2 separate regions of the Homo sapiens genome follow, and region 1 is reported to be linked to region 2. The links are microRNA targets in miRTarBase. Many come from high-throughput screens and were not tested one by one. Region 2 holds a microRNA gene; the other region holds the end of a gene's coding sequence.
Evidence for each region. Region 2 holds the annotated microRNA hsa-miR-3666 (CAGUGCAAGUGUAGAUGCCGA, at 6,310-6,330, opposite strand). A microRNA usually pairs through its seed, bases 2 to 8, with sites in the 3' UTR of a target mRNA and lowers its output. Matches are read on the target gene's strand: a 7mer-m8 pairs with bases 2 to 8, a 7mer-A1 pairs with bases 2 to 7 and ends in A, and an 8mer does both.

Region 1: the mRNA of NIPA1 is a reported target of hsa-miR-3666. Seed matches in the 3' UTR shown: 7mer-m8 at 3,833-3,839 and 7mer-m8 at 3,653-3,659.

What each region holds. Positions count from the first base shown.
Region 1 is chr15:22,823,613-22,833,093 of GRCh38, reverse strand. NIPA1 (NIPA magnesium transporter 1) reads right to left here. Exons shown (of 5, transcript NM_144599.5): 5 at 3,305-9,366. The coding sequence ends at 8,855. Among named protein-coding and RNA genes, the nearest start is that of NIPA2, 10 kb to the left of the region's middle. RefSeq lists an enhancer at 5,453-6,205.
Region 2 is chr7:114,649,951-114,659,702 of GRCh38, reverse strand. MIR3666 (microRNA 3666) reads right to left here and starts at 6,358; the gene lies at 6,248-6,358. FOXP2 (forkhead box P2) reads right to left here. Exons shown (of 17, transcript NM_014491.4): 9 at 7,413-7,500; 10 at 5,694-5,777; 11 at 1,436-1,637; 12 at 271-347; 13 at 30-131. RefSeq lists enhancers at 1-47, 3,385-4,649.

The DNA of each region.
Region 1 (9,481 bases), not on the chromosome of region 2:
GCCATCAATGACCTACAAATGTAGTAGGGCATTTTCCAAAACATTTGTTGGGGGTGAGCAGGGAGAAACTTTCTGAAAAATATAGGAATAACTCAAGGTGAATTGAGGTAGAACAGTGGGATAGTGATTAAAAGCCAGGAGTTGGCTTTTGTGAACTGCCTCACTTGGTAAAATGGTAAGTGGATGTGGTAAGCAGAAAGCCCAAAGATATCCACGTCCTCACCTTGTAACCTGTGACTGTGCCACCTTCCATGGCAAAAGGGGCTCTGCAGAGGCAACTAAGGATCTTGAGAGAGGGAGCTGACCCTGGATTGTCCATGTGGGCCCAAAGCAGTCATGAAGGTCCTTCCAAGAGGGTGACAGGAGTGTCAGAGTCAGAGAGTAAGCTATGATGATGGATGAGTGGCGAGAGAGATGACATTGCTGGCTTCAAAGATGGAGGAAGGAGCCACGAGGCAAGATACAAAGGCGGCCTCTAGAAACCAAAAGAGCAGGGATGAGACTCTTCCCAGGAGCCTCCAGAGGGAAGTAATCCTGTCTGCACCTTGATTTTAGCCCAGCAAAGCTTGTGTGGAACTTCTAACCTCCAGAATTGTAAGATGATACGCGTGTGTTGTTTTAAGCTACAAGGTATGTAACTTGTGAAGAGCCGTAATAAAAAACTAACACAATAAGTATGCCAAATTAAGGGAAGGAGAAGATGCTGGGATCCCCCCAATGTCTTTGTCAAAAATAAAACAGATTCAGTGTTATAGATGAGCAACCTGGTCTGACCTTCTCTCCACCCTCTGGTCCATCATCTCAGTGATTTTCACACTCATTATGTTTACTTGGTCACCACCACCGCTGTCCTGCTTGCCACCATCCAGTTCCACACCTCTTTCTCATGTGCTCGGCTGGAATGAATCCTGTCCTCTTTGGACTGGTAATAGAGAGGTACCTAGATCTTTTTTTTTTTAGACGGAGTTTCGCTCTTGCTGCCCAGGCTGGAGTGCAGTGGCGTGATCTCAGCTCACCGCAACCTCTGCCTCCCGGGTTCAAGCAATTCTCCTGCCTCAGCCTCCCGAATAGCTGGGATTACAGGCGTGCACCACCACGCTCAGCTAATTATGTATTTTTAGTAGAGACGGGGGTTTCTCCATGTTGGTCAGGCTGGTCTCAAACCCCTGACCTCAGGTAATCCACCGGCCTTGGCCTCCGAAAGTGCTGGGATTACAGGCGTGAGCCACTGTGCCTGGCTGCAGAGGTACCTAGATCTTTTATATCTGTTTCTTGTCTGTGTCTCACCTCTCCAACTAAAAACCTTTTTAAAACTATCATGTGAGATTCAAACTAATGGTGAACAAGTAAGTGTGACTAATACTACAACAAACATGCTGACAATGTCAAAACGAAGGGTCATCAGATGGATGGGATGGATGTAACTAAGCAACACAGAAATTCTAGAACAAGTCCCTTGCAGGGAAGGCTTGGCTAGCAGCCAGCACAAACTACTCTATAGTAGTAACCAACCAATGCAAGCTTTTGTTCAATGACAGCAGAATTTGGCATTAATACACTTCACAGCCCCAAAAACCTATCTGGAGTTATCCATAGATGCATTTGGTGATTTCATAAAATGTTTGTTCTTGTTTTCTGTATAAGTATACTTTGATCAAAATGTGAATAATTAAATCTTTTGGGATAGAGACTAAGAAAAAAATCTTACTCATTTTTTCTCATTTGATAAAATAACTTATAGGACACCAGTCTGAGCAACATAACTAGACCCTGTCTCTACAAAAAAATTAAAAAATTACCCAGGTGTGGAGGCACAGGCCTGTAGTCCTAGCTACCGGGGAGGCTGACGCAGGAGGGTCGCTTGAGCCCAGCAGTTTGAGGCTGCAGTGAGCTATGACTGTAAGAGAGTGAGACCCTGTCTCTCAAAAAAAAAAAAAAAAACCAAAACAAAGAAAATTATAGGACACTAAAGAAGATCAGCAACAAGATTTCTAATGATGCTTGAAGTATGAAAATGCGTTATAATTGTCTCATTTTCTATGGGCTAAAAATGTAAAATGATATGTTATACAACTCAAAAACATGTCAAAGGTACTAACATATTAAAATAGAGCTGGTTTTATTTAATACTATCACTTCATTGGATCAAGAGACAGTCGCAGGACAGGGAATTTCTGCATACATCATGGATTTGCTCCCTAAGGTAGATGCACAGGTAGACGGTTTCTTTTTCTTTTTCTTTTTTTTTCCAAGACGGAGTTTCGCTCTTGTCGTCCAGGCTAGAGTGCAGTGGCACGATCTCGGCTCCCTGCAACCTCCACCTCCCGGGTTTAAGTGATTCTCCTGCCTCAGCCTCTGGAGTAGCTGGGATTACAGGCACACACCACCACGCACAACTAATTTTTGTATTTTTAGTAGAGACGGGGTTTCACCATGTTGGCCAGGCTGGTCTCGAACTCCTGACCTCGTGATCTGCCTGCCTTGGCCTCCTGAAGTGCTGGGATTATAGGCGTGAGCCACCGCACCTGGCCTTTTTTGTTTTGTTTTGTTTTGTTTTTGAGACGGAGTTTTGCTCTTGTTGCCCAGGCTGGAGTGCAATGGTGTGATCTCGGCTCACTGCAACCTCTGCCTCTCAGGTTCAAGTGATTCTCCTGCCTCGGCCTCCTGAGTAGCTGGGATTACAGGCATGCACCACCACCTCTGGCTAATTTTGTATTTTTAGCAGAGACAGGGTTTCTCCATGTTGGTCAGGCTACTCTCAAACTCCCGACCTCAGGTGATCCGCCCGCCTCAGCCTCCCAAAGCACTGGGATTACAGGTGTGAGCCACCACACCTGGCCCACAGGTAGACATTTTCTACATTGTTATAGAGATCTAGAGGCTAGTCATTTCTGTCTTTTTTTTTTTTGAGATGGAGTCTCGCTCTGTTGTCCAGGCTGGAGTGCAGTGCTGTGATCTCGGTCACTGCAACCTCTGCCTCCCAAGTTCAAGTGATTCTCCTGCTTCAGCCTGCTGAGTACCTGGGACTACAGATGTGCACCACCATGCCTGTCTAATTTTTGTTATTTTTTAGTAGAGATGGGGTTTTACCATGTTGACCAGGCTGGTCTCAAACTCCTGGCCTCAAGTGTCCCACCCGCCTCAGCCCCCTAAAGTGCTGCGATTACAGGCATGAGCCACTGCACCCAGCCTAGGCTACTCATTTCTAAAAAGAGAATAGGAAAAATGGGAGGAACTGGGATGATCTGGAACCTGAGACTACATAAGCATTTCAAGTAAAGGGAAAAAAAAAAATCAACAAATGTTCAGCTAGAAATAAGTTATTTTATTTTAAAACACATACAGATTAATAAATATTACTGGAAAACTTAATAGCCTTTTTATTTACATGAGGCAATAACAACATGCTATGACTACATCTATAAAGCAAAATATAAGCAGGTCTTGGCCACTGACACATGTGTCTATGTATGCTAATTGGAAGCTCCCCAATACATGTCTATGACAAAACTTTTACACAACCAATCAACATTTGACATTTTTTACATCTTCTTCCTCTCATGATTATATTCCATTTTCAAGAAAATAATAGTTATCCTTTGAAAAGGCAAAACGCTCAAGCCACTGAAAAACAGTATCTAAATTTCTGTAAAGTGCAAAAATACTAAGGTGGGGGGCAATTATTATATTCTGACAAATAAATATTCTGAACTTTTCAACATGACCCTTTGGCACTAGTGGTTTGGGAGCCCTGACATTCGCCTGGTGTCAGTTCAGCATCAGGGTTGAGCTGCTTGGAAGCAGGAAGTTCAGCGTCATTTATTACAAATCCAGTGCAACAGAATCCACGTGTTTCACAGGCCATTAAATCTTTTTCAGAATACAGACCTCGGCCGAATGTCAGGAGCACATCACACCATCGGAAGGTGATCTTTCTGTGCGGCTTTCTGAAGTCCCTGTTTAATTTCCATATTTTACAATAGAACATATAAAACCCTTTCTTTTAAAACAAAAAAAGGAAAACTAAAGCTTCATGGAATCATGCAAACTTTACACCCAGCACTTCCTTTGCTTTCTCAGCGCATGAGGCTGTGTGTCCTACAGCATGGTCCTGAGCAGACTCCATGGTCCGTGCAAGCGGAGTTTCCACTGTGCCACTCCCAGGCACTTCTGAACACGGTGCTCTCATCTCAGGCCACCAGAACACTGCTGAAAGTGCCGGTGTTTTAGAAACAATTTGAAGAACCATCCCACCCCTTTAGAGGTAGAAAAACTGAGGCACAGAAAGGTTAAGAGACTCACCTATGTTTGCACAATTTAGGGAAAAATAGAGAAAAGAAGAAAAACATCCTCCTCCCTGGCTCATGCTCTGGGCCCTGGATTCTGCTTTTTAAATGCTTTTGGGTACATGTGAAATAGATGTTTATTTACATGATCCTTGTTCTACTGAATATCAACTTTTTACTAGACAACATATTTTGATGTAACAAAGTTACATTTTCTTAAAATATAATTATGTTGTTGCACGTGAGGAATGTGAATGAAACAAATGAGTCGTGGTAGTGGGCCAAATTCTCACTGCTGTTCCTGTAATTCTGAACCTTTTCAAGTATACAATGGAGGTATAAGAATCTGGCCAGATGTGAAACATCACCTATAAGCTAAAGGACAGACCCTTAAAATTCATCACCAGTACAATTGTGAGGTGGAAATGAGGAATACAAAAAATTGAGGTATTTTATATGATAAACTGTCTTGTGGTGTGACTGGTGTACAAATTGGTCTTTTCTTTCCAACTCACATTAACAGAATCTACCTATGAATATGAGTAAAACCTATGAAAAATGAACACGGATATGTCCTTGGGAGGAAGGTCACTGTTAAGGAGTCAATGATACATTTTTGGTCCCTGAGAAGGCAAAACACCAAGACTCCATCCAATCCCGCCTGATGGACGAACAACGCCCTCGGTGTCAGACACCATGAAAAGAACAACTTCAGAACACGGAAGCTAATCCATGCTGTCGGGAACAGACCTTACACTGAAATGTTCTCTTTCTAGTTTCCTGCTTGGTGGCAGGAAGCCTAAGTCAGCATCGAGCAGGTGTCAGGTCGAAGCGGCACAACGGGAGGGGCTCTGGGAACCACCGGAGTACTCTCTCCCCTCTTCTGGGTTAGCTGAGCAGCTTGAAGAAGAGGAATCCCCCGACCAGACAGAAGGGCAGCAGCCTGTGCCCATCACACCTGTTTCCACGGACCAGGTGTCCGTGCACACCTGGGAGACACTGCATCTCCAAAGTCTAGAACTGGCCCCTAGAAGTTGAGCACAACATTTACAAAGAGCTGAGTCATCTAGGAAGAAGGAAAATAAGACGACTGCACAAGTGAACAGTGCTCACTTCTACCAGAAAACAGATGTGAAATCCAAAGAAGAACAAACACCAACATATTACCGCTGGGATGAACTTCTGGAAAGACAACTGGGTGTAGTAAATTGGCTTGAAGAGCAGGAATTGAAAGAATATTCCTTATTGCTGAACAAAGAGCTGCGAAGTATATTCACTAACATTCTGATAGGAAAAGATCTCAATGAGAGCTGAGCAAGGCCACCAGAATACCAAATTCCTCCCCAAAGTCCCCAGCATGGGCAGGGCCTCACTCCATGTGGCACTGGAAGGACTTCCCTCCCCAGCACCTTCTCCACAGAGATGGCATGGTCCTGCCAGCCGGGAAGATGCTCCAGGGGGGCTTTGTGGTGCTGGGTTAGGGTTAGAATCCTTAATTGGCCCTACCTTTGATCAATGAGCAGAACAGGAAGCAATCCTTTCAAATGCAAATATTCAGAGGAGAAAACAAGGCATTGCCCAAGAAGAGGAGAGAAATAGCCTATTTAAGTATCTATCAAGAGAAATCTGCATATTGTGATCAAAACCTTTGATTTTAGAGGATGCTTGAAAACAAGTATACAGTAAGCATCTTTTTTTTCAAAGAATAGTATGATAATGAAAATATTTCAAGTACATGTACTTTTGGAAAGACCACTAAGAGATCTATCCATGTTCTAGGCCCTCCCCCAAAGTTCTCACTTTGGGGCTTTTTCATTTTCAAATGAATGATGAAAACATAATTTTTTAAAATAAATACTATCAAATCAGAAGTTATATGCTCTATATTAAATTTGAAAATTAGACTGTTCAACCACTGGTCATGTCATTTACTTTGAGGCTGGTGTCACGTGCTTGAAAAACAATGGATGATATGAACTTTGTTTCACTGGAAGAAAAGCTATGTATCCTACTGAAGTATCTGCTGAACAGAGGTAAACCTGAAAGATTCTAACTGTCCCAGGACCAGTCACCTTCAAGGGTAGAAGAGCTATTAATACTTTTGAGATTTTGTTTTACTCTAAGAATATTATAGAGAAGATCATCGGGTATCACCTCTCAGTATCAATGGTATAATTGTGGATTAAAATATACTAAGGTACACCAAGAGCTGCCTTTAAACTAAATTTCCCACAAAAGCTGTAGCAACACAAACATGATCATTTTCATGTGACACATGAACTTTCTCATTACACTTGTTAGCCACATGTATTCTTTGAATATCTCACACCCCTTACCTAGGAAACTATTTTTATGCCCAAAAGTATATTGATACTGCTACATTACGTTTTCAGAAAGTTCAGTTCAGTAAGTTAAGGCCTGCATTTCTAAAAGCACTGATGATAAAACACAAAACCTGCAAGAGCCAATAAAAAGAGTAATGGACTTTGAGCATTTGTTAACCATCCATTGAGAGGATTTAAGATTTTTAAAAAATAATGTTGTTGCTGCTCTCAGTTCACAAATCACTGACAACCCATGATCATCATGTACACGTTTACTCCATAAAGGTATTTTTCTCTCTATATTAAACTAGTCTCATTTTATTTAGCCTCTTTACTCAACACTTTAGGAAGCTATTCCTTGAGACTTTAGAAATGTTCTTTTTGCCTACAAAAACACATTTTTTTTCTTACTGAGGAACTTTAATTGGGTACTATTCAATTTTATGTTCTACTTCACCTAATCTACTTTACCCAACCCCATCTTTCAACTTGGCGTAGTTCCCTGCTGAGATAAAACACTGGCCATGAAGTACATGATACCGTGGTGAAATATGTGCATCACTTCATGCTATGCTCCCATTTGGAACACATGGATGGGAACACTATAGACAGAGAATGACCTCTTTGATTCAAATACTGGCATAATTAATGGCTCTTTTGCATTTAAGACACATAATGAGAGGTTAGCTGAGGAACTCTAGGATGCTCTGCCATTGCAAACAACAAGGAGATGGCTACATTTATTGGCTTTTTGTTAGAAAATCTTTCAAAAACTGCATATTGCAATTTGTAGAAGCTAGCCTAACCTCAATTGTGTCCTTTAACTTGTTCCTGTATGACAGGGTACTCGATATATGAGCTATTGAACAGGTACTCTCCCACTTAGCCTTATTATCAAGTTACCTAATTTATTTCTTCTGAATGGCCATGAATGCTTGCTGATAAAGAATGTGGATATATTTGATACTGGATCCCAGGTAACACAGATCGAATACAAATAAAATAATACCTCATGCTACTTAAATCAACTGTCTTTAATTGGACAATAATCACATGTTAAAGGGGTCAATTTGCTCTAATGTGTCTTTAGTCTTGACTATCTTCCAGTGAATATACAGTCATGAACCACGTAACCATGTTTCTGTCAAAGACATACCACTTACATGACGGTGGTCCCATAACATTGTAATACCATAGTTTTACTGTACCTTTCCTATGTTTGTAAACACAAATACTCACCACTGTGTTACAATTGCCTGCGGTATTCAGTGCGGTCACATGCTGTACAGGTGTGTGGCCCAGGAGCAACAGGCTGTACCATCTGGCCTGGGTGGGTCATAGGTGTCCCATCTAGGTTTGTATAAGTGCACTCCATGATGTTCACACAATAAAGTCACCTTACAATGCATTTCTCAGAATGTTTCCCTATCATTAAGTGACATGTGACTGTATTATTTCTAACTGCCTTATACATTTGTAACTTGAATATTGAAATATTAAAGCATACTCGAAGTTGCATTATTCTAATCTAAGAACATATACACATTAAGAGTCAAATTAAGTTAATAATTCAAGTGATAAAGGCACTGAAATTGATTTGAGCTATTGAAAAGTCATCCTGCCAGTGGAACACTACCTCATGTTCATTAACTCTTCTCTCTCTCTCTATTTACTATTAAAATGTCTTGGGTGGGGGTGGGGGTCGAAGAGTCAACTTGTCAGAGGATTAAAAACAATTCAATGTATATGCCTCTTATTTGGATGACATACTTGAATGTTATACATGCTTAATGCAAACTAACACAACTACAGACACATTCACTGTACAGTGCCAGAGTTCAAGACAACAATCTCTCATTCCCAAAGTAATCTAAGTAAAAATATCTCTGCTATCATGTAACAACTAACCAGAAAGAGCCCATCTTTTTCTGTTTAAATAATGTTAAAATGTTTTAAAAGAAGAGAATATTCATGAAAGCTTCCAGGTTAATGGAAATGAAAATGAGATTCGTCTCATCAGAGAGAGATGGTGCCAGGCAACCGTTGGGGACGTTTGGGCTGCAGAGGGCTGGCTGGGCCTCTGCTCTGGTGCTGAGCCATGCTCCCCGCTATCCACCAGACCACCTGTTACTATCCAGTCAATTCTAACACCATGATCGAGGACCTCTTCTACTTCACATCCAATCACGGCCAGAAACCACCTCCAATGCCTATTCCTCGAACCATCCAAGCTCCTATTGCAATCTAGTCTGTTTTCATATTAGATTTGTTCATCTCCCCAAGGTTGAAATTGAACTCTTTGAACACCTGTATAAGGACAATCCCCACGGAGACGGTCGTGAATCCACAGGCCATCCCCAAGAAGTCCACCAGGCCCACGTTGCTCCACTCCCGGAAGAGGATGGCTGAGGCCAGCAGGACCAGCGTGGTAAACACGACGTAGTAGATGGCCCCGAACACCGAGGAGTCGAAGCACTCCAGCGCCTTGTTGATGTACCTGAACTGGACGATGATGCTGCAGCCGAGCACGGCCAGGAGTACCAGGCACAGGCAGAGGGCTCTCTGACTGGACGGGTTGTTATGCAAGATGTCTTGGGCCGCCAGCCCGATGCCCTTGGTGGAAGGCACGGTGAAACTGCCCAGCAAGGAGCAGATGCTGATGTAGACCATGATGTTGGTGGGCCCATGGGCCGGCGCGATCCAGAAGATGAGCAGCAGCAGCATGAGCAGCACGATGCACAGGTAGCCCACAAACACTGGAACACAGACAGCACACAGTCACCCGGAGCCACCGCCTAGCAGCCGCAACCCAGGAGGTGGACTGGGGCAGCACCCGGGCCCCCACCCGCCACCCGCCACCGGCCTCTACTG
Region 2 (9,752 bases):
CATCTTAAAACTGCTGGAAAAGTAGTTACCTTCCAAGTTGCTGCATTACGCCTGAAGTAAGCAAATGTCCGTGTAAACCAGCTGTAAATTTCATTAAGTGTTAACTGCCTGTCAGATGACTCCATGATAGCCTGAAATGAGACAAGATACATAGTGACATAAAATAATGGTTTACTAACTAGACTAGATGACACTTTCTCATCCAAGCCTTACTTTAAGCATTAATGAATTTTAATTTAATCAGGCAAAGTTAATTTTCCTTCTACTTACCTGCCTTATGAGAGTTGCATAAGTAAATGGAGGTCTGACATCTGCATTTTTATAAAATTCATAGTTTGGGGCAATTTCTATAAAAATAAAAACTAGGTGTTAATTCTGCTAATAATTCACATTATATATAATTGAATTTTCATATTTCCTCTAGTATTGGTAAAGTGATTCAGTGAGGAAGCCACCGACTAGTGAAAGCACAAAGCATGACAGTGGAATTGAATTATATGGAAAAGGCCATTTCTGACGCGAAGTGCAAATGAAGCATCCCCTAGTTGTTCGTGGTACTTCAGGAACTGTGCGACCTGCTGGCCTGAGGATTTTTTTCCAATAGCCAGGTCTTCTTTAAAGTGGGTAGTTTAGGCATATTCTTACATGGACTTTTGCCCCCCTGCTATAATCTTTGCTTCTCTCATCTAATACGTCTTAAAGTACAACAGGCTCACCTCTGCATCTGTGGCCATCTAACAAAGGAAACACAAAACCCTCACCAAGCACCCATGTTGAAAATAACTTCACTTTTTGTAAAGAGGGGGCTCTGGGCTAATAATGGTTACAATGTGTGACTGTGATTATCCAGATGCCCCAGGGATGGCAGGTGGGGGAGAAGGGAGAAGGGAGAAGGGTAAGAGAGGGAAAGAAGGTAAATTTGTGTTCCATGCAAATGCAAAGTTTGCCTCTCACAATGCTTCTTAAGCAAAGTGCCATATCGGCATTAGGAGCTGTGACAGGATTTCATTTAGGTAGCACCTTGATAAAGACTGATTCATGTAAACCTCGAACTGTCTTGCATAAAGCAACGGTGTTTCGTATATGTCCTTTAAAATGGCTCTTCTCTACAGCATTACTCACAGATGTTGGATTGCTAGTCTTCCCTCAGAGATCAAAGGATCTCATTGAATTGAGGTGATAATATGGGCTATCCTGACATCTCTCAGTGTCTCTAATGGGGAGAGCTTTCTTTCCTGAACAACCATTCAGAACAATTCATCATGATGTGCTTAGGGAATCGCCCCTATTCGCATTTACCAGGAATAAAACAATTATCACTCCATAAATCATGACATGAGTTTCCATGTGCTCTGGAATGGCTCATGTACAGTTGATTCAGCTACAGTTTTCCTCTCCCAAAGTAAAAGTGCTCTACTGAGCATTCATATCCTACCTGATGACATGGGAATGTTGTATTTGTCTGAATGTCGCCTTCGTATGGCTCCCACATTGGGCACACTGGCTGGGGTGATTACTGAGGGTCCCTGGGTAATCGGGGTGACTGGGGCCGTTGGTGTGGTAGGGGTTTGAGGTAAGCTCTGTGGGGATGTCTCCAACATATTCTTCGACATGGTGACACTAGACACCAGATTTAGCTGCAAAGGCCCAAGAGAAGGGCAGGAAAAAGGTAGAGACAAGAGAAAAAGACTTAAAAAGGTTTGACAAATGAGAGTGGATTCACTTCTACAGCTGTGTTGCCACTAATAAGCTGCAAAAGGAAGCAGCCAATCTCAACTAATTACAGGATGAAATTGTATCATAAGAACTCTAATTAGAGGATTCTGTTAGAGGTTATCTAATAATCTACTGCAATGTTACTTAGGACTAACTCCTTCTTGTCCTACCAGACTTCAGCGAAAGTCTATTTCCTTAAATAAAAGCCAGTTGCTGATTATCGACTGCCCCTGTTGTTAAACAGGTCTAGCCCCCAGTGAAGCAACAACAACAGCAATAATGAAGGATGCAATGTTTTTAACCAATAGGATTTAAAGTAAGTTGCTATTCTGTTGATGCCAGAATTTTTTTTTTCGTAGTCCCAAATCTCAGCTGAGAGGCTCCAGCCAGCTGGAAAATTTTACACTGACCTTTAGTCTCCTTGCTAATTTGGTGGAATGGTAATGACATTACTACATATTCAAACAAAATTGTCTTAATTGCAAATTAGCCGGAGGAGGCTGAAAATTTTCAAATTAAATCTGATTGGAGATGGAGAGAGGGAAATGGAATTTCCTCACTAACAATCATTTGTGGCATGTGTTAACAAATATAATGAAATGTCAAGTTTGCCAATTCCTCTGGAAGTATCATTTTCAATTTATGATTACAGTGTCACTTAATGCTGATGTACCCTGGAAAGTGGGTGTCAGGGTAGAAAAAAGAAAAAAGGTGAGAATGTATGCAAGCTGTTTAACAGTGTGCCCTTCATTACTCCCCTCAGAAAGGCCCTGTTCTTCATTATCAAAAAACTCATATCACCTCTGTCATATTTACCACACATCTTTTGTCATAAATAGCATCCAATTAGCAAAATTTTTACGCAGGGCAGCACATAAAAAGATTTCTGCCATACATTTAAATGGTATTCACAAGAGGTAATCTGTGGTCCTTTTTACTTTATACAGTAGGCTATACAACCAAGCAAGAAAACTAATTCTAATTGTTCTGTTTCTCTATAAAGTAACTGCTGAGTGGCTAAATAGAGAATATTCAGCTTTTGTTTATAATTTAGTAACACCTGTCTTTTTAAATCCCAAATACACTTCTTAAGATAAACCTTTTTTTAATGGGGAGAAAATGATGTGTACAGCATTGATTGATCTTTCTTTGTGGATTTGTTTTACACATTTAGTCAGTAGAGAGATTTGTTAGGGAAACAAAAATTAACATATGCCAGCTAATTGTTCTTCTTTCTTGGGCAGCAGCCAGAAGAAGCACATTAGCAGTCTAATAATAACGACTGGCACCCTGAAGGCATCCCCAAGTGCATCTGTTCCCAATAAACCACAAACTGTTATTCTGTTCATACTCTAAGCCAGCAGACTGGGTAGGGAATTCTTTGTTACGTACATAAATGAAAGCTGAGATAATGCTCCTAAATGCTGCATTTAATACATTTACAAAGCCACTGGTGTAAGCTTCTCTGGGATGTACAAGAGCACCTCTGCATAGTTTGAGAAACGCAGAAACATCCATATGCATCTGTATGTGACTTTGCAAATATTCTAAAATATCAACATCAGAACATATACATAACAATGTTATATTTAGAAAATATCAGCATTACATACTTGTATGTTAAAAATATGAAAAGAAAAGAAAAGTATTTCCCCATACATAAAAAAAAAAAACTCAGCTGGATGGTTACATATTCACTTTTAGAATTGCAAACCAGAACAAAATGGCACATTCAGAACCCAGAAAATACCAAATTGCAAATCAATGAAATATCTATCCTGATGAATATGTGACAGGACTCTGTACATTTTACCAACACATTAAAAGTTATCAAAACAGGAGAAATACATCTTTTTCAATGCAAACCACTCATGTTTACAATGTTACGGTAACTTATTCTGCTATCCTGTAATAATAAGCATACCATGTTTGTAGGCGTACAATCACAAACTGATAAAATAGAATTTATTATTAACTAAAGGGAAGCATGTAAAAGCTAGGATGAGCACTTAGCCACCTCGACTCATCTGAATATAGTCAAGGTTGGGTGAAACTCATTATTCAGGACTCGCAGCCTTGATAACTTTGATTTTCATCCATCCATAGCATGGCCAAAAGGTACCATTTAATGAAGTACCATTCAGAGAGTAAATGGGGTCATATAATAGACAGTGCGGTTGCACCTTGTGTTCATGTACTGATAGCTGTTAAGGGTGCAGTGATGAACCAACAGAGCTCATTTCTCCTTGGTAATAAATTCATGCTATTAATATTTATCAAATGTGTGGGCCGTCTCAACTGAGCCACTGCACATGAGACCATAAATCTCTACTATCATATCAATTTTGAAGCTTCTTTTGTACAGTGTATAAATTTTAGGGTTTTTTTGAGGGTTGTGAGTATTGACCACTCTTCTTTCAAACCGATCTGAGGCCAATAGTGCAGTTCCTCACTTCAGATATCGCTAGTTCCAAAGGGAACTTTAAACTGTGGTTTCATTTTAAATCGCTCATCTAAGATTCTGTATTAATTGCCCACCATCAAACGCAATTAGCAATTCTTTCATGTGTGGTTTATGTAATGTAATACTTCAATTACATTATTCATTCAGGTTCTGTTTTGGATTATAGGCTGAAAATTCTTTATTAGTGTAGATGTAACCATGCTGCTGGAGTTTTAAAAAATTTACTGATTGAATAATTAATTGGAAAAGAACAAGCTGCAGATTCCTGATGGATTTATGAGACAATTATTCTGTCTTGTGATTATCTACATTATACTATAGAAGCAATGAGGGAAAAAATCTTATTGAAAAGATAGTCATAAATACATGATCAAAAATATCCTCAAAAGTTTATTTTTTAATTAAAAACTCAGACATTTTAGAGTTTAAAAAGTAGTATGTCAGATTCAAAAAGATACATGTCTTTTTTCTTCCTATAAAAATGTTTTTACAGTACTCTACCTTTAAATACAGTACAAAGGAAAAGCAGAAATAGCTTAGCAGAGTTTAAATATAATCTCTACCAAAAAAGTAAATTTTGAATGATATTAATTGATAAGAAATATCGAGACATTACGAGAAAATTAGACAATATAGTCGTCTTCTGTCTCCTCCCCAACTACAAAGCCAAATGTTCGTTTTTTACCTAAAGAAATAGAGGGAGAGGCAAGACTGGCAATCATTAATCATCAGGCTATACAGGGGCCTTATTAAAAAGTATCCCACAAACTTTCATTAAACTAGAGTTACCCAGTTGATTACTCTAAGTTTCTGTGCAAACATCAGCTGAATGAGATAAAGTATATTCTTTTCAACAGTCTGTGTATCTGACTACATTATTAGGTTGAGCTTAAATCTCATATATTTTTGAGGGAAACTAGTCTTAATTTTCTATAATCACCCACTTCTTTTTGTGATAAGCTCTCTAAATTAACATTATGTATAATGTACAATAAAACATATCAATATGTGAAATACATCTTAACTGAAATAACCAAAGAAATAGGACAAAATTGGCTATAAAAATACCATGACCTTTATGACAAAATATTTGATAAAAATCTATTTATATGTATCTTATGATTGATCTGCCTTCTTCAGCACACCACATACATTTCTATTTGTGATTTGTACGTTACTACTTTTCAGGTTGCTCAAAGAGGGTTTCCTTTTAATATCTGTAAACCTATCACAGAAAGAAATTCTCTCTGGCTTCAGCCCCAAGGCAGTGATTTGTGCACTGATAGGTGTACTTTGTTTAGTGTCACCCATGGTGTAGATTGGATAGATTTTGTAAAAGATAGCATTACTTTAAAAGAAACATACAATTTGACAAGCGATTACATTTTACTTTCATTTTATTGCCGTATTTTTCATCACACTCATTGTTTTCTAACTGTCACTAAATTGTTCATTTTCTTAGTCTGTTACATTGGTAGAGCTATTTACTGTTTATAAAGCAATATGCACTTACAGGTTTGGGAGATGGTTTGGGCTCTGAGGGTCGCATGTGCAAGTGGGTCATCATTGCTTGAAGACGTTCGCGTTCTTTAGAAAGCTGTTAAGAAAGAGTGAGATCAGAAGCGTTTTAGAAATGACTGATACAGCTATTTTATTGCAGTGATACATCTTATCATTGAGCTTGCCTCAGAATAATGATTCCTGCATGTAAAAGTCTGCGTCAGGAGGAACTTATCTGGGAGGAAATGCAACTTTAGCTATGGAGGGGGAAAAACTTTTATAGCTTTTCTTATGTTAAAAGGTCAGAGAAAACAAATAACACTTCATCTTTTTGTCAATAAGAGAATTGAGGTCACAGTTGCCTCGACAGTAACAAGTTACTGAAACCATAAATTAGAAGGCCCATGGTGTCTCTTTAAAGTCCTGTGGACACTGTTAGCAATGGACTAGTGCCAACAGCTGTGAAGGGGTGAAGGGTTCTCAAAGCAAAGTGCCTGCCAGGATTGTCTACACACTTCATGCATTCCCACTGAGGTCCAGTTAGTGCCCCCTGCAATCTGCCATCATCAATCTAATTCAATAGAGTGACAGAGACCAGGCAGTGTGAAACGCTGAACTCTGCCACGGAGTCGGCATCTACACTTGCACTGGGTCTCATTACAACTGACGGACCTTACTTTTCCATCAGTCAGACACAGCAGAAGGAAAAAAAAAAAATAGGCGTAATTGGTCACACCGAAGACTGTATCATCAGCTGAACTCTTATGTTTTAGTCTACCTTTTATAAATGGTAAACAGGTTTATAAAAAGCTTTTTAAACTTTAACAGTGATGGTGCTTTTTGTGTTCTTGATTATTTTACAAGTCAAAACAAAATATTTTTAGTAAGCTCTCTGAAAAAAGCAATGACACGAATTTGAAACAAGATGTAATAAAATATGAAGAAAAATCGTATCTTTAAATGAAACAAAGTATTAGTTTCATTGAGAAAAGATCATCTTTAAGATGAAATGTTAGAGAAAGCCTTAAAGGCTTAGTAAAACATAACAAGAGTCAGACTTTGGGTGACATAATTGCTTTCTGATTAGTTCTATGGATTCTATTTACTTCTGGCCAAATTCTGTTTCAACATTAATAGAATTTTTTTTAACTTAAAACAGTCGCATTTGATACAACATGTGTGTATTATCATCTGTGATATAAATTATCTGCCTTTAATCTAGCTAAAGAAAAGTATAAAGATTTTTTTGCAAGTTCTTTAATTAAAATTACACTAGAAAAAGAAAAGAAAAGGTTATCTTTCAGGGTGTTAGTTATATTACAGGCATGATATTGTAAAGACTGGTCATTTGCCACAATATAAAATCTCATGGAAAAAAATCAAGGTTAGCTCATGTAAAAACTCTCTCTGTAATAAAATCATATCTAATTGGGAGTTTGGTCTAACCTGCATTGGGAAAAACTTAGATCTGACTACTTTGGGATATTCAAATTCATATGATGTGGTCTAAAAGTTATAAAAATATAAGTGATAAGTACATTAAACTACAGCAATCCTTCCTGGGTTATCAATAATTGCCACTGTTTAAAACAATCTAAAATATCATGTATCTCCATTAGTATTGAATGGCTAAGACAGTAAAATGCAGGCTGAAAGACCCAGAATCTGCTCAGTACTCAATGTAACACACCAGAAATCTAAGAAGAGTCCATTAAGTGAGCATTTAACAAACCTGTATTTCTAACTGTTGCACCACCTGCATTTGCACTCGACACTGAGCAGTGCTTCGGTCATCCAATGCGTGTTCATTGTTAAGGTGCCTAAACAAACAGAAGACACAAAACAGAATGTAAAGTGATGTCGATCTTAGTGGCATAGGCTACACTTAAAAAGCACTACACTGAAGTCAGATGTTTCTGTGCACTGGGAAAACAGAAAGCCTTGAAACCATACAGATAAAAGTTAAAGCTGCTTACGTGTTGTGTGAAAATTATTTATGTAATGTAAAGAGACTCTTCAAATGGCAGAAAATGTCACTGTCTCTAAGCTTACCTGTTATTACAAAAAATATTTCCCCAGACCATTTACAGAGTTATAGTAGAAGTCATATTATTTATGCCATTTTTTTAAAAAGAACAGCTTACAAATCTATGAACCAAAAGCAATTCTGAAGAGAACAAAGGCAATTTTCTATTTCATTGTTAGAACAGTTTGTTGTTTCTATGATGTATTTTAGTGAGCAATGTTTTATTTCATTGGGATGTGGTATGAATTAGGTAAAGATGGCAAATTATCTCCCGTGGAAAATCAATATTTATGAAGAATGATGATTTGCTGTTAGTAATAAAGAACTTCATTGAAGATTTTGATCATTAGAATAACAAGATTGACATTTCATGTCCAGTGTTCTAACTAGGAGACATTTGTCCTAATCTTATTTTTAAAATGGTGAAAAATAAATCATTCCAAATGATCTCACTCTAACCTTGAATATGCATTAGTCTACCATTATTATTTCTATACGATGTTTAAAGAGATCTCTTTAATGAGTGGTATGTTAATACACCAAAAGTAATTTAGTAAAGCAGCATCTCCAATGAACATGAAAACATTTAATAATATATACTCTGTAATTTGTAATACATAATGTCTTTGATGCTTCCCAAAATTAAAGAAAGTAATCTTCAAGTAATTCAATATCCTTTAGTGTATCTATTTCACCAATGGGCAAAGTAAGGCAACAATTTCAGAGATGTTCTCATCATTGCATATAAGTGAAATGGCATATTGAAAAGAAATTCACAAAATTAAATAAGAATTTATATATTTACCCAAGTGGGCTCAAGTATCATTTAGAATGATATAATAGTCTAAAAAGTTTATAATAGCCCTGGGTATACTGAATTCAACAAATATATTTTTGTATCCATTCAAATTATTTACTTTTATTTCTTGAAGATCACAGTGAGGCAGAAAAAATATAAGACACATACATGTAAAACATATGAAGAGTAATTAAAGTCGTGTTGCTGATAAAAACTAATTTTATTATAAACAAAAGGTTTATTTGTTTATATACCTAGGTTCAACAATCAGAAACCTTTGTTTTGCCTATACCTTGATAAATTAAACCAGTTTGTTTTAATACTTCCTTATTGATCATAACAACAAAACCTCCATGTATCTTGTCACAATGTCAGTCTTGGTTGAAGAGAAACTGTGGACTAAAATAGCAAGGTGGATAAGGTCAAGCTGAAGGAGTGTGGCTGGAGTGCAGGGGAGGCACTTCCACTATACCTGTCTGCTCTCTAAGCTCAGCTCAGGTTTGTTCTGCTGTGAACCTGTGAGGAGGATTAACATTCACTCATGCTCTCTGGGAAGGAGGTATGGAATGTGAGAGTAAGCCAGAGGTTAGTTAACAGAAAGTGTCACCAATTCCTAAATAACAAGACTACATTTAAAAATTGTTTCCCAGGGTTTTTTCCCCCAAAATTTAAATGAACAGTAAGACAATTTTCTACCAGCATAATACAGTTGTGTGTTGTATTCTTAAGGCTTCATATTGCTGTGTTTCCGTAAGATTTTTTTTTTTTTCACCATGAACTCTTGGGGAACACAAACATATTTATTCCATATAAGAAAAAATGTTGCATATTTTCAAAAATGCTTCAGTTATACACTGAGATTAGGGTGTAAATGCAGGAAGCAAGATAAGTAGAACATACAGGTCTGCAATAAAAGGCATAGTCACTATAACATTTTCTTGTGAAATCACTTTTTAAAATGATTTTCTACACTTGTTTACTGCTTAGTGATAATCATGATCTTATATTTAAAGAACTAAAAAAAGTACAAAATGTTTGCTTTATATACTTGGGTCTTAGAGCCCTATTCAATTTATCTATGCAGCTTTTATTAGAATAGAGACTGTAGACTACAATAATAGTCAATGAGGTTTTGTCTTGATTGAATTTTTCAGTGGAACACAAAAGAACCTTGCCATTAAAATAGTCCTTTATTCTCCTGTATGAAGGCGAAAGGTTTTTAAAGTGTTGTGATGTTCAGTAATGAG